4 separate regions of the Homo sapiens genome follow, and regions 2, 3 and 4 are each reported to be linked to region 1. Evidence: microRNA targets listed by miRTarBase, many of them from high-throughput screens and not tested one by one. Region 1 holds a microRNA gene; each other region holds the end of a gene's coding sequence. Distances are between the middles of the regions.

What was found. The annotated mature microRNA hsa-miR-4452 reads UUGAAUUCUUGGCCUUAAGUGAU and lies in region 1 at 1,244-1,266, shown strand. An mRNA with a match to its seed (bases 2 to 7 or 8) in the 3' UTR can be bound and repressed. Matches are read on the target gene's strand: a 7mer-m8 pairs with bases 2 to 8, a 7mer-A1 pairs with bases 2 to 7 and ends in A, and an 8mer does both.
Region 2: the mRNA of WNT5A is a reported target of hsa-miR-4452. Seed matches in the 3' UTR shown: 7mer-m8 at 1,607-1,613.
Region 3: miRTarBase lists ZNF394 as a target of hsa-miR-4452. The part of its 3' UTR that is shown has no 7-base or 8-base seed match.
Region 4: miRTarBase lists GABRB1 as a target of hsa-miR-4452. The part of its 3' UTR that is shown has no 7-base or 8-base seed match.

Annotation. Positions count from the first base shown.
Region 1 is chr4:86,540,570-86,543,750 of GRCh38, reverse strand. MIR4452 (microRNA 4452) reads left to right here and starts at 1,199; the gene lies at 1,199-1,269. It also overlaps a transcript of MAPK10 not described here.
Region 2 is chr3:55,467,238-55,470,384 of GRCh38, forward strand. WNT5A (Wnt family member 5A) reads right to left here. Exons shown (of 5, transcript NM_003392.7): 5 at 1-3,147. The coding sequence ends at 2,855. Among named protein-coding and RNA genes, the nearest start is that of WNT5A, 18 kb to the right of the region's middle.
Region 3 is chr7:99,490,806-99,493,986 of GRCh38, reverse strand. It overlaps ZNF394 (zinc finger protein 394), which reads left to right. Exons shown (of 3, transcript NM_032164.4): 3 at 1-747. The coding sequence ends at 458. Among named protein-coding and RNA genes, the nearest start is that of ZNF394, 7.9 kb to the left of the region's middle.
Region 4 is chr4:47,425,489-47,428,647 of GRCh38, reverse strand. It overlaps GABRB1 (gamma-aminobutyric acid type A receptor subunit beta1), which reads right to left. Exons shown (of 9, transcript NM_000812.4): 9 at 2,201-2,974. The coding sequence ends at 2,630. Among named protein-coding and RNA genes, the nearest start is that of COMMD8, 37 kb to the left of the region's middle.

The sequences.
Region 1 (3,181 bases):
TCCCACACAATCTAATTCCCTTTACACTCCTCTTCATGTACTTGCCAAGGTTGCAAATGTGCTTAATTGTATCTTTTCTGCATTCAAATTTTAGTTCTTCTCTTTTTTGTGTTTAAAACATTCAAGTTTTTCTTAGAATAGATTACCCAGTCTGTTCCATTCTACTTTTTCTCTTAGGTTAGAAATAAAGATAAACAGAATAAAGGACAGTAGATTTTTATGACACAGAGCTAAGTGGTTTAGGGCTTACATTTTCCTTAGTCCTGTGAGTTAGGTGTCTCTTCAGCCATCGTGTAGAGTCTCAGGGCATATGTCACTCTGGTGTATGGGAAGTTTGTTCCCAACAAGCCAGGGAGGATTTTTAGACATCATATACTACAGGGAGAGGAAGAAGATTCCCAGAGGAAGCTGCAAGACATGGATACAAGAATGGAAGAAGAAAAAAGCTAGCTGAGAAATTAGTTTGATGAGGTCATAGTTTTGAACAGATGTAAAATTGCTAGTTTGGTCTCTGTTATTCCTATAGCTCAATTCCTGGTGTACTCTTCTCAATGCACCTACTTCTTTGGGAATCCATCTAAGTCCCCCCACCTGGACGGATCAGGTATCTAGTGTGAAATATTGCACCACATCCCTTTAACTTCCTTGGCTTTGCGATTTCACAGATTGAAGCAGCAGTAGTAAATTTGCCTTTCACTGGTTCCCTCTATACGTGAACCTTCCTTGCCCTCTGAGGCTCTGATGACCAGCTGCATGGTGAGGCAGTGTGCTCAAGGTGCCCCCCAGCATGATGGTATTTGGGTTCTTATGCTGGATCTGGGGCTGATGCCAGCGACAAGCACTAGCTGCACTTTCATGCTGGTGACAGGCAATGCTAGGTTGTGAAGTGTCCCTTCAGACAGAGATTGCATGAAAACAAGATGGAAAACATCAGTGCTATTGCTATGTTTCAGTCTCAAAAGCAAAGCAAGCAGTGTCTGTAGTGTTCCCTTGAAAGTTTTCTCTAAGACTTTGGCTAGCATACTGGGAAATTTTGTCTTCTCATACATATATCTGAGAAATGTTGACAGTTGGAACCTGAGCTAGGGTACGGTTGACAGGTCAGTGAACTCTGTATTATCATAGGGAGTTTCTTTTTTTTAGAGAGAGTCTCACGTTGCCCAGGCTAGAGTGCAGTGGCTATTCACAGGTGCGATCATGGATCACTTGAGGCCAAGAGTGCAAGGCTGTAGTGTGCACAGCCTTGAATTCTTGGCCTTAAGTGATCCCTGTCCCAGCCTCCTGAATAGCTGGGACTACAGGTACACACCACTGTGTCCAGCTAGGGAGTTGAAGCCTTCATGTTACAGATAAAGAAATTTGGGGCTAAAGGAGGTTGAAAGACTTATTAAACATCACACAACTTGTCAGTGGCAGAGCCAGAGCTAAAACTCTGGTCTCTGAACTCCTGGCCTAGTATTCTTTGCATTATAACACACTGCCCAACAGTGCTTGTGCTTGCATCTGCTGGCTGGCCCAGGGTGCCAAGAGACAAAGGCCAATGACGTGACATACCTTTTTAATGTAATTGGGCTTCTTAATGTTATTTTTCTGGACATTATGGATAATACTTCTATCTCTCAATATTCTGAATAAAAATATAATGCATACTCATTATGGAGAATAGGAAACTTGGAAACATAGAAGAAAATAATATTTTATAACTTGATTATCCAGATAGGATCACTATTAATATTTTATTTCTTTCTTTTTCCCCACCTGTGTGTGTGTGTGTGTGTGTGTGTGTGTGTGTGTGTGTGTGTGCCGGTGTATTCATGTGCATTTACAAAATTGGGATTATATATTTTGTATCAGCTGGGCTTCTTTCTTTAGTGCAAATAACAGAAACTGACCCAGTTACAAACTTAAGGAAGGAAAGGAATTTCTTGGCAGTCCACAGAATAAAAAACACCCAGGCTTTGGAAGATTAGGACCCAGGAAGGTTCAGGGAGCTCTGCAGCAGAAACTCAGAGCTGCTTTTTTCTCAGAATAGAGAATAATTACTGGGTAGACCAAAATAGCACTGTAGATAGATGTCCCAGCTTTGAAATTCACAATCATATCTTGGATGAGTACAGAGTTTCTTTAAATTTCTCTGTAACTGAATTTATTTTGTCACTAGTTCAGTGCAACTCTGTCTGTCTCTTCGAGGTTATTATCACATTTGAAGTTCAGCCTCCCTCTCAGGGCTATTTTTCCCTCTCAAGATTTTTCCTTTCTACCACTTCTTCTCCCCTTCCTGGTGGCGGTCTTTGGGAATAGAAAAAGCTCACGCTACCACCCTGCTGCAAGGAAGGCATATCTGGTCTTTGTGTGACCCTCCATTCCTTCCTGGCTGTGAAGTCTTGTTTACATGGATTTTGCCTATGGGTTTGTTCTGGACACTGGGCAGTGCAGTGCAGAGCAATTACTCCCAGGAGTTTGGTTATCTTCTCCTGCTGCTGCTGAGAACCAACTACCCCTGGCTTTAGTGTGGGACCTCCCAATTCTCTGCTATGTCTCCCCTGCCCCCACTCCCCACTTTCCCCATAAGCCAGCTGTCGCATTGTTCCCAGATCTCTCCCATGCCCCTTTCAAGATTTCAAGAATGCCCCATGGGGATTGTAGGGGCTGGTAGGGTAGGAGCCTCTCTCAGCCCCCACCCCACCCCAATCCTGACTTGGTGCCATTCATACTCTTTGCAGCCACCCTGCGTTATCAGTGGGCATTCTGAAAGTGGCTCCTCCCTGATTTCATGTAGGAAATCTAACAAAAGTACCTCTGCTTTTGTTGTTCAAGATAGGGTCTTGCCATGTTGCCCAGGCTGGTCTCAAACTTCTGGGCTCAAGTGATCCTCCCACCTCAGCCTCGCAAAGTGCTGGGATTTCAGGAATGAGCCACCACGCCTACCCCAAAGTACCTTCTTTTCTCATGTCAAGAAACCTATTTGGAAAGAGGCCAGTCCCCTCAGGGACTTTTCCTACATCTGACTTTCTTCTCTTTTTTCCCTCTTTCTCCATGCTCTTCCCTGCAGCCCAGGAAGGGAATTATTCTTCTTCCTTGCTATCAGGCAAGAATATATTAAGTACTGCATTATTTTTATTCTGTGATTAACTTTTGTAATCTCTGTGCTCTCGTCTTCTAGATTCTGCATCAGTTTTCC
Region 2 (3,147 bases), not on the chromosome of region 1:
ATGTGCCTTTTCATTCTTCTCTGGGATGTTACAACAGCAACACGCTCTAAAACAATTAAGTTACATGCATAATGCTAAAAGAATGTGAGCAATCCTATAACCAGCTTTAAGCCATCTGCTTGATTTCTTTTTTTTTTTTTTTTGTAAGGAACATATATAGGAAAAGAGAATTCCCCTTTTGTTCCATTACATATAGAAACCTTTTGAAGCTTCCAAATAGCTTGGTTTTGGTAAAATTCACCACTCTTTTATTACTTTGACATGTAGTCATCCTAAACTATCCGTCATGGTTTCTCCAAAAATCTCCACATGAATTATCTGAAGGACAATTGAAACCACTTACCAATATACAAGTAACGTTTTATTTTATATTCTATCTTCCATTTGGCATAAGCCTTTCGATGTTTGTTTTTTAAACCAGTGAAATATACAAATCACGCAAGACAGAAATATGTACATTAAAAGTACAGAATAAAGGCTAGAAGATATACATAATATCTGAATGACATGTAGAATATTTTACATTAAATAGTTTCTTTTAAAAGCTAGGATTGTTAAACTCAACTCTCTTCATAAACATGAGTCACTAAAAAGGAACAATCTGATTTAGCAAATAAAAAAAGTACTTCATGGTTTTTGTATAATAAAAACCAAAAAAGTGACATTTTAAACTAATTAGTGCTTTTTGCTTTCAAGATCTTTTGCTCACAATTCACTGCAACTGAGGGGATGTGAATATCATTATGCAATAAATTAAGAGCCACAGTTGGCTGAGGTGATATGAAAGCCAACCTGCCTAAGGGGGGTATGAAAGATGTGTATCTTTCCAAACTTTTAAAACAACGTAAGTCTGAGATAAGAACATATTTGATGGCACTGTTTGGAAAGAGGTGTCCTTATTAAAAAAAAAAAAAAAAAAGCTATCTATGTAGTGGGCTGAATATTCCTTAGGGACTCAATTAATAAGTACTGTCATTTCTAATAGGCATGGGTTTCCATTCTGCAGAATGAACTAAGAAAAGAGAAACATTGCTGATGCTTCTGAGTTTTGAATATCTCTTAACGTCCATGTCTATAACGAACAAGTAATGCCCTCTCCACAAAGTGAACAGAAATGGAGGTTGGAGACAAAGGGGTGAGGCAGAAAAGAAAAAAGATATCTTCAACCCAACACGCATTTCAGTGAGTCAGAACTCAAGCTTCCTCAGAAACAAGGTTGCTTCGTCGTGCTCAAGGTATGATCACAGCAGGGCCACAGCCCAAGCTCAAGACTCAAAAAACTTTTGGAATAATCCCAACTGGACTGCAGTGAAGGACAACAATGCTCTAGACAGAGAAATAACCCCAGAGTAAACTGTAAATCTAAATCACTGGCTGCAATGAGATATATTTATATTTATATTTATATATATGTATATATATATATATGTTATGTACAAAAGACTTTGAGATATCAGGCACCATTAAACCACATTTCCCCCCTTATAAATGCAACTGTTCAAGTACACTGGGAACAGTTTTAAGGTACACCTGCAGTACAATAGGAGAAGCATGAGTGGATAATCTAAACACAGGATCATAACAGTGATACGCTGCAACACCTCTGTGAATTCCATTAGCCAAGTTCTGTCATTAAAACATAGAAAACTACTGCTCCTCAAAATAAAAGTTTTAGGAAACAAAAATCCCTAAGTAGTGAACTGTTTTCCAAGCAGAGCTCCTAATGTTTCATTTCCTGTCCTACAACCAAAGGGGACCCAGTGGAGCTGCCGTTTGGAAACGTGGCCAGCATCACATCACAACACGGAGGAATCAGAGAGGGCTCAGTGTGAAGAGGAAGGTGGATTTCACTGTTTTTCCTCAAATAGGTTGTCTGCTCTGGTGCAGTGCTGAATGGCACGCAATTACCTTGTTGCTTGGGCTGAGAACCTGTGAATGGGATTCATGTATTATTTTTACTATTATAATTTACTAACCAAGTATCCCTAAGAAAATAACAGGATATTTTCATTTATGTTCAAGCCAACCTCCCCAAACAAAAAAATCTAGTGTCCAGAATCATTTGGGGATCTTTTTACAATCTGGAATCCTAATTCTTATAACAGCTTCAAATCAACATCTTGACATAAGAGTTTTAAATTTTTTAATTTCTGGGGACTTTCCTCCCTGCTGCCCAAATTTCATGAGCTATTAGAATATGACGGTCTGTCTGCAAATGGAATATTTGAGGAGAATGAGACATGTGATATACCTTTTTTCCTTGAGAATATGACATTCTTGTCCTTCCATTGTAAATTATCATTTTGAAAATGCAGAAAGCAAGCTAGCAGCCCTGCTGGGGAAGGGAGGTTTGTTTTGTTTTGTTTTGTTTTCCCAAGACCTTTTATCTTGCACCAGAGAATTTACAACTCATTTTGGTCATAGAAGCTGAATTGTGAATAGATTTCTACCACCCTCTTTCAACTGGAACCTACCCATCCCATATGATGGCATATTTGAGAAAAAGAAAATGTATTTCTTTACCTTCTGGATGTGTACCATGTCCACACAGCTAAGTTAGGGTATGTGTTATTTCCCCTTCATTCTATACTATCAAAAGAAGTCTTGTATTACCTTTTCAAAGATCCACAAAATAAATATTTTTCTTGGTTCCCACCCCCATTATTGCCAAATAATAATTATAATATTAATAATAAACCACAGAGTTCTTAGATGGTAACAGGAAAAAAAATGGTTCCGGTTGCAATTCTTGGGGAAAAATAAAAAATATTTCTAAAAACCAAAAACCAGAATCACTGTACTTTCTATAAATAAGCGGGTCCTGGGAGCGGGGCTGAGTGCTGGGTGGCACCCACTACTTGCACACAAACTGGTCCACGATCTCCGTGCACTTCTTGCACTTGACGTAGCAGCACCAGTGGAACTTGCAGTGGCAGCGCTCCGTCTGCACGGTCTTGAACTGGTCGTAGCCACGGCCGCAGCACATGAGCTCGCAGCCATCCATGCCCTCCGACGTCTTGTTGCACAGGCGGCCCTGCGTGCCCAGCGAGCCGGTGCTCTCATTGCGCACGCAGTAGTCAGGGCTGGGGTCGATGTAGACCAGGTCTTGTGTGGTGGGCGAGTTGAAGCGGCTGTTGACCTGTACCA
Region 3 (3,181 bases), not on the chromosome of region 1:
GCGAGAAGCCGTACACCTGTCTGAAATGTGGGGAGCGCTTCAGGCAGAATTCACACCTAAATCGTCATCAAAGTACCCACAGTAGAGACAAACATTTTAAATGTGAGGAATGCGGGGAAACCTGTCATATTTCCAACCTTTTTAGACATCAGAGACTACATAAAGGGGAAAGACCCTATAAGTGTGAAGAATGCGAGAAGAGCTTCAAACAGCGCTCTGACCTCTTTAAACACCACAGAATCCACACTGGGGAGAAGCCCTATGGATGTTCCGTCTGTGGGAAACGCTTCAATCAGAGTGCAACCCTCATTAAACACCAGAGAATTCACACTGGGGAAAAGCCTTACAAATGTCTTGAATGTGGGGAAAGATTTAGACAAAGTACACACCTTATCCGACACCAAAGAATTCATCAAAATAAAGTGCTGTCGGCTGGGCGTGGTGGCTCACGCCTATAATCCCAGCACTTTGGGAGGCCAAGGCAGGCAGATCATTTGAGATCAGGAGTTTGAAACCAGCCTGGCCAACATGGTAAAATCCTGTCTCTACTAAAAATACAAAAATGAGCCGGGCATGGTGGTGCATGCCTGTAAGCCCAGCTATTCGGGAGGCTGAGGTAGGAGAATCACTTGAACCCAGGAGGCGGAAGTTGCAGTGAGCTGAGATCATGCCACTGCACTCCAGCCTGGGCAACAGAGCGAGACTCCATCTCAAAAAAGAAATAAAGTGCTGTCATTTTGATATGTTTCTATGTGACTTGGCCTGTTTCTTTTCTTGTCCAGAACCACATTCCTTGCCATTTGGAGTATATCAGTCAATTATGGATCTTCCTTGAGTATCTCCTACAAGATAGGTTCAATCTGTCCTGAGCCTCATTACAGACTGATAGTTTCAGTGAGTGAGGAATGAGGAAGTAGGGGGCCTTCTGAAATGTGAGCTGATGCCAGGTAAGAGACTTCTGATGATAAGAGCCAGGCTGACATGTAACGGGGTTCTGTCCTTGTTATCTGCGCTCTACCTTTATGTATTATTTTTGAGACTGGGTCTCGTCGTAGCCCTCCAGCGGGAGCCCAGTGGTGTGATCGTGGTTCACTGTGGCCTCAACCTCCTGGGCTCAAGTGATCCTCTTGCCTTAACCTCCTGAGTAGCTGGGACCACAGGCACACACCACCACACCCAGCTTTTTTTTTTTTTTAAGAGATAGGGTCTTGCTATGTTGCCCAGGCTGGTCTCAACCTCCTGGGCTCAAGGAATCCTCCTGCCTCAGCTTCCCAAAGTGCTGGAATTACAGACACAAGCCACCACACCCAGCCTACCTTTATTTACTTTTTTTTTTTTTTTTTTTTTGAGATGGAGTCTCGCTCTGTCACCCAGGCTGGAGTGTAGTGGCATGATCTTGGCTCACTGCAACCTCCACCTCCTGGATTCAAGCAATTCTCCTGCCTCAGCCTTCCAAGTACTTGGGACTACAGGTGCACCATGCCATGCCCAGCTAATTTTTTGTATTTTAGTAGAGATGGGGTTTCACTGTGTTGCCTAGGCTGGTGGTGAACTCCTAAGCTCAGGCAGTCCGCCCACCTCAGCCTCCCAAAGTGCTGGGATTACACACGAGCCACCATGCCCGGCCTTTTTATTCACTTTTGAACCAAATCTTGCTCACTACAATTATTAATACTTGCCTAAGAATGTATTTTAGTCATTTAAAATTTGCCTTTGGCCTTAGATTGTAGAGAGGGTTTCAACTACTTCATAATCCCCAAAAGATCTGGTAAAGCTCAGTACTCAAAAGAAGCACTCTATTTTTCACTTTCCAGAAAACCTAATTTTGCATAGTCCCTCTTTCTTTCCCATTCTAGGAGCCTAGGAGTTCAGTTTTATGACTTGCTGATTTCTTTTTTTTTTTTTTTTTTTCTTGAGACGGAGTCTCGCTCTGTCGCCCAGGCTGGAGTGCAGTGGCGCAATCTCGGCTCACTACAAACTCCACCTCCCGGGTTCATGCCATTCTTCTGCCTCAGCCTCCTGAGTAGCTGGGACTACATGCACCCCCACCATGCCTTGCTAATTTTTTGTATTTTTAGTAGAGATGGGGTTTCACTGTGTTAGCCAGGATGGTCTGGATCTCCTGACCTCATGATCCGCCCGCCTTGGCCTCCCAAAGTGCTGGGATTACAGGCTGGAGCCACTGTGCCTGGCTTTTTTTTTTTTTTTTTTTTTTGAGACAGATTCTCTGTCGCCCAGGCTGGAGTGCAGTGGCATGATATCGGCTCACTGCAACCTCCGCCTCCCAGGTTCAAGCAATTCCCCTGCTTCAGCCTCCCGAGTAGCTGAGACCACAGGCACTCGCCACCACACCCGGCTGATTTTTTGTAGTGTAGTAGAGACAGGGTTTCACCATGTTGGCCAAGATGGTGTCTATCTCCTGACCTCGTGGTCCGCCCGCCTCAGCTTCCAAGTTTCTAATCATGCCTTGGTCTTTCCAGTTAGCCCCCAAGCTGAACCCATCGGAAATCCAAGAGTTGCCTTATTAGAACAAAGACATGCATCACTAAGGAAATTCCAATGGGTTTAACAGCTCTGTGTCAGGAACAAGTGTCAAAGACCAAATATGATAAGAAAAGATGCTCTTAGCACCCTTATCCCTCAGGAATTCTCCAAGGTTTGGGGAGCTCTCTGCTAGTCATTGAGGATGAAGACCAGATACATATTTATCATGATATCACAAGGCTTATTATACAAAATTTGAGTATTTCTTGCAGAAGTGAATAAAATAGAACATAAGAATCATCTCCAGTAAAGCAAGTGTGGTTGTCCTTTCCAGGTCCTGTGAAAATGAAGGGAAGAGAGTGTCTGCTCAGCTCCACTAGGGGCTCCCACCATCACGGTCAGGAGACCACTCTCTCCCTGATGTAGGTGAGCTGGGGCACGTGTAATAGAGGCCTCTGCTTGAAGGAATATCATCAGGAAACAGCAGTCAGGGCACTAGTGGCCCCTGACAAACACAGGGCAGAGCCCCGGGTCTAGTCTGGGTGTAGGTGGCTTCTGGGTGATAGTGGCTTCTCTTCCTCTAGGAACTGTTTGGAAACTGAAGAGTGTCTGGCCTGGACAGCACCTACACCTCCCTCTAAGTTTGAAGCCATCTCAGGATGGCTGCGCTTTGGATGTGACTGTTCATTTTCTATGG
Region 4 (3,159 bases), 39 Mb from region 1:
CTGCCTCTAAAATCAGCTATTTACCAGGATTTTTATAATGCTGGCTGTGGCCCCTCTACTGCCCAGGAGGGCATATGGTGACACCATTTTGTGCCTGATGGGTAGATTCAGGCTTAATAAGTTTACATTTTACAAAGGTTAAGATATGAATTCAAAATGTTCTCTTTTTTTCTCAGAAGATGCTTTACATCTAAAACTACAGCATCAAAATCGTTAGATTTTTTAAAGACAAGATAAAAATATAATAATAAAAATACAAATATTCTCAATCTTTCCCAAGAATAATAATCTAAATAGATAAATAAAAATAAATTGTTTGTTAAGGAACATAGATTACAGATACTTCCTTTCTGATTTAGCATTTCATTCTTAAAAGCTTTTAAAAGAGCTTTGACACCCAGAATGATTCATTTTTATTAGGCATCAGCCAACAATTTTCCTTCCTGTGTTTAAGATAAATGGCTGCACAGTGGTTCCTTTGCGGTCATTACGGAATATTAACCTTACAATCACTGACATGGCCACATGCCACTCTATATGGCCATTTTATGATGGCAAAGCATCTCACCCTGCCAAGGGACTGAAGAGTTTCAAAATGGATGACTTCATACCCTAAGGCTGGAGATTTCCTTGACCAGGAAAGTGTGATAATACAACTAAAAATCTAAATAAAAATGTGGTCCCTATCATGAAACCACTGAGATCATTTTTTCCAGTTAAAGCAGAGTTTTTGTATATATATTATCTTCAGCCTTAACTATTCATTTATTTTAAGGTTCCCTTTTCCTCTTGCTTTCTAAAAGAATATCTTGTACCTTTCTCCCCTTCAGCTCATCAGTAAAAATTCAGCATCATCTGTCCGGTGAAGACTGTAATTTCCAGAAGCTGATGCTATTGTAAACATGGACCCCATCACAGTCTTAGGGAAAAAGCTAGATCATTAAGCCAGGCAATCGTCCCTATTATTACCTCAACCCTTATTTCACATTCATGGGTCAGGTCCCAAACCTCCTGCATCAGTGTTTGGTTAGCTTACAGTTTCATTCAGTCTTGCAAATGAACATACAGAATTCTTAGATACTGAGGTTGAAAAATAAAATGACAAGGTTTCAGTGATATAACATGGGAAGAATCTCAACTGTAGCTGGTTGGACATGTTTAGAATTGTGTTGGGCTACTGAAGGATGCCCCTTCTATGAGAACCATGACCAAGAGTAATCCACAAGCGGAGATAAAGCAGAGGAGCAATGACAGTGATTAATGAGTGTAGACAGGGTCTATTCTTTAGGGACTGGTGCATGTGTTGGAAGCTCCACTGCTTTTCTCATCGCTCTTGTTTTTATCTGTAGTTCTGCAATTTTCAAGATTTTCTTTAAAATGGAATTCTGGTCCTGAAGGGGAATGACATCAACATGGGTATTTGTGCATTTTCCAAAGCATTCATTCCAGTCTGGAATGCAGAGCTCAGAGAGCAGAGCCATGAAGTGCCAGTTGAGGCCTGTGTGACTAGCCTGTCACCATTAGATACTGCTCTCTAGAAGGCAAAGAAATATATACTATTTGATTTAAGATTTGGCAGTTCAGATAACTGCCCAGGCACCCTTTTCACAGCACATAAATCTTGCCTTCCTAATGGCAAGGGCAATATTTTTCTCAAGCAAAAATTGCTCACCATCCCCTTCCTCCCACACTCTCTGGAGCAGGAACTATGGAACTGGGGTGGCATGGCTTCCTGGCACAGCATCAGGGGGTTCCAGGCTGATGAGATGAATTCAGGGCTGCATGTTTGAAATGGCCAGTTAGAAAAATGGTCATTGCCTTCCAAGCTCCTTATTCTCAAGAAAAAAAGAAAAATGTTCTCAATGGCTACCAGGTCGACCAGGTTGGATTCTAATGTTAATTTAAAATTTGCCGGAAAGTCGAGAAAGAAGCATATTTCAGAATATCCAGCTTAATGGTGCAGTGAAGATGGCAGGTTGGGATTGCATAACCTTGACCAGCGCTTGTCCTTCCTTCCCTCTTCTTCTGTGGAGCTGTGGAGCCCTTTTACAACGGACATGGGAGAACTTAAGGATAGAGGGGACTCTTCCTTCCCTGTCTAAGCTCCTTTTTCTTTTGCCTTCTTCCTGGAAATCTGTAACTTGTCAATGGCTTTGTTTTTTTCTTCTGAGATCCTGGAAATTGTGTGTTTTTTTTTATGTTTTTTTTTTTTTTTTTTTGGCAGCATAAGTTTGTTATAGTTTACCAGGAAGCAGTGCAGGCGGACAGCAAGGTCCTCTTTTCATTTTCCCTAAAAAATAAATCAGTGAAATCCAGGGAAACTAGAAAAGACTGCTAAAGATCTACCTGTCTAACTTCTCTCTTTGTGTTTGTTTGTAAACATGGCAATTAATAGAGCTCTTAAAGAGCTGATAACCTGGACCACGGTAGACTGGAAAAATAATTTTTTTTTTGTTTTGTCTTTTTGAAGTAAACATGGTGCAGTAATAAAACTGATATGCAAGACCTAAAACCAATTGGATGGCTGAATCTCTTACCTCGAGAAACAGCAGTATCGCTGTTGGGGACCTGTAAGGTTAAAAAACAATAGAAGAGGAAAGTAGTCTAAATGGAACCATTAGAACAGACCTCAGTGTACATAGTAAAGCCAATAGACGACATTAAAAAGAGAAAAGGTGATGGGGAAAAACATTCGGGACCACTTGTCTATGGAATTCACATCAGTCAAGTCGGGGATCTTGACTTTGAGCTGGGAGGCACGCCTGCGGATGCGCCCCTTGCTGGGTACCCCGTGCCGGTCCAGGGCGCGCCCGTAGGCCTCGCGGCTGCTCAGGGGCTTGCGGTACTGGATGCTGGCGCTGTCATAGGAGTACATGGTGGCCTTGGGGTCGCTCACGCTCGTGAGCACTTCCGAGCCACTCGTCTCATTCCGGATTTCCAGGGTGCTGAGGAGAATGTTACCGTGGGCGTCGACCTGATGGCAAAAAGAACAGGCTCGGACACAAGTTGCAGGACCTTTGCCTGTTTTCATTAACCTGTTACTAATGATACCCCATAAGGCTCATTAAACACTGTGTTCCTAAACATCTGGCTTGATGTGCCTCCCTGATGTGGAGATAGATCGATCGATCTATCTATCTATCTATCTATCTATCTATC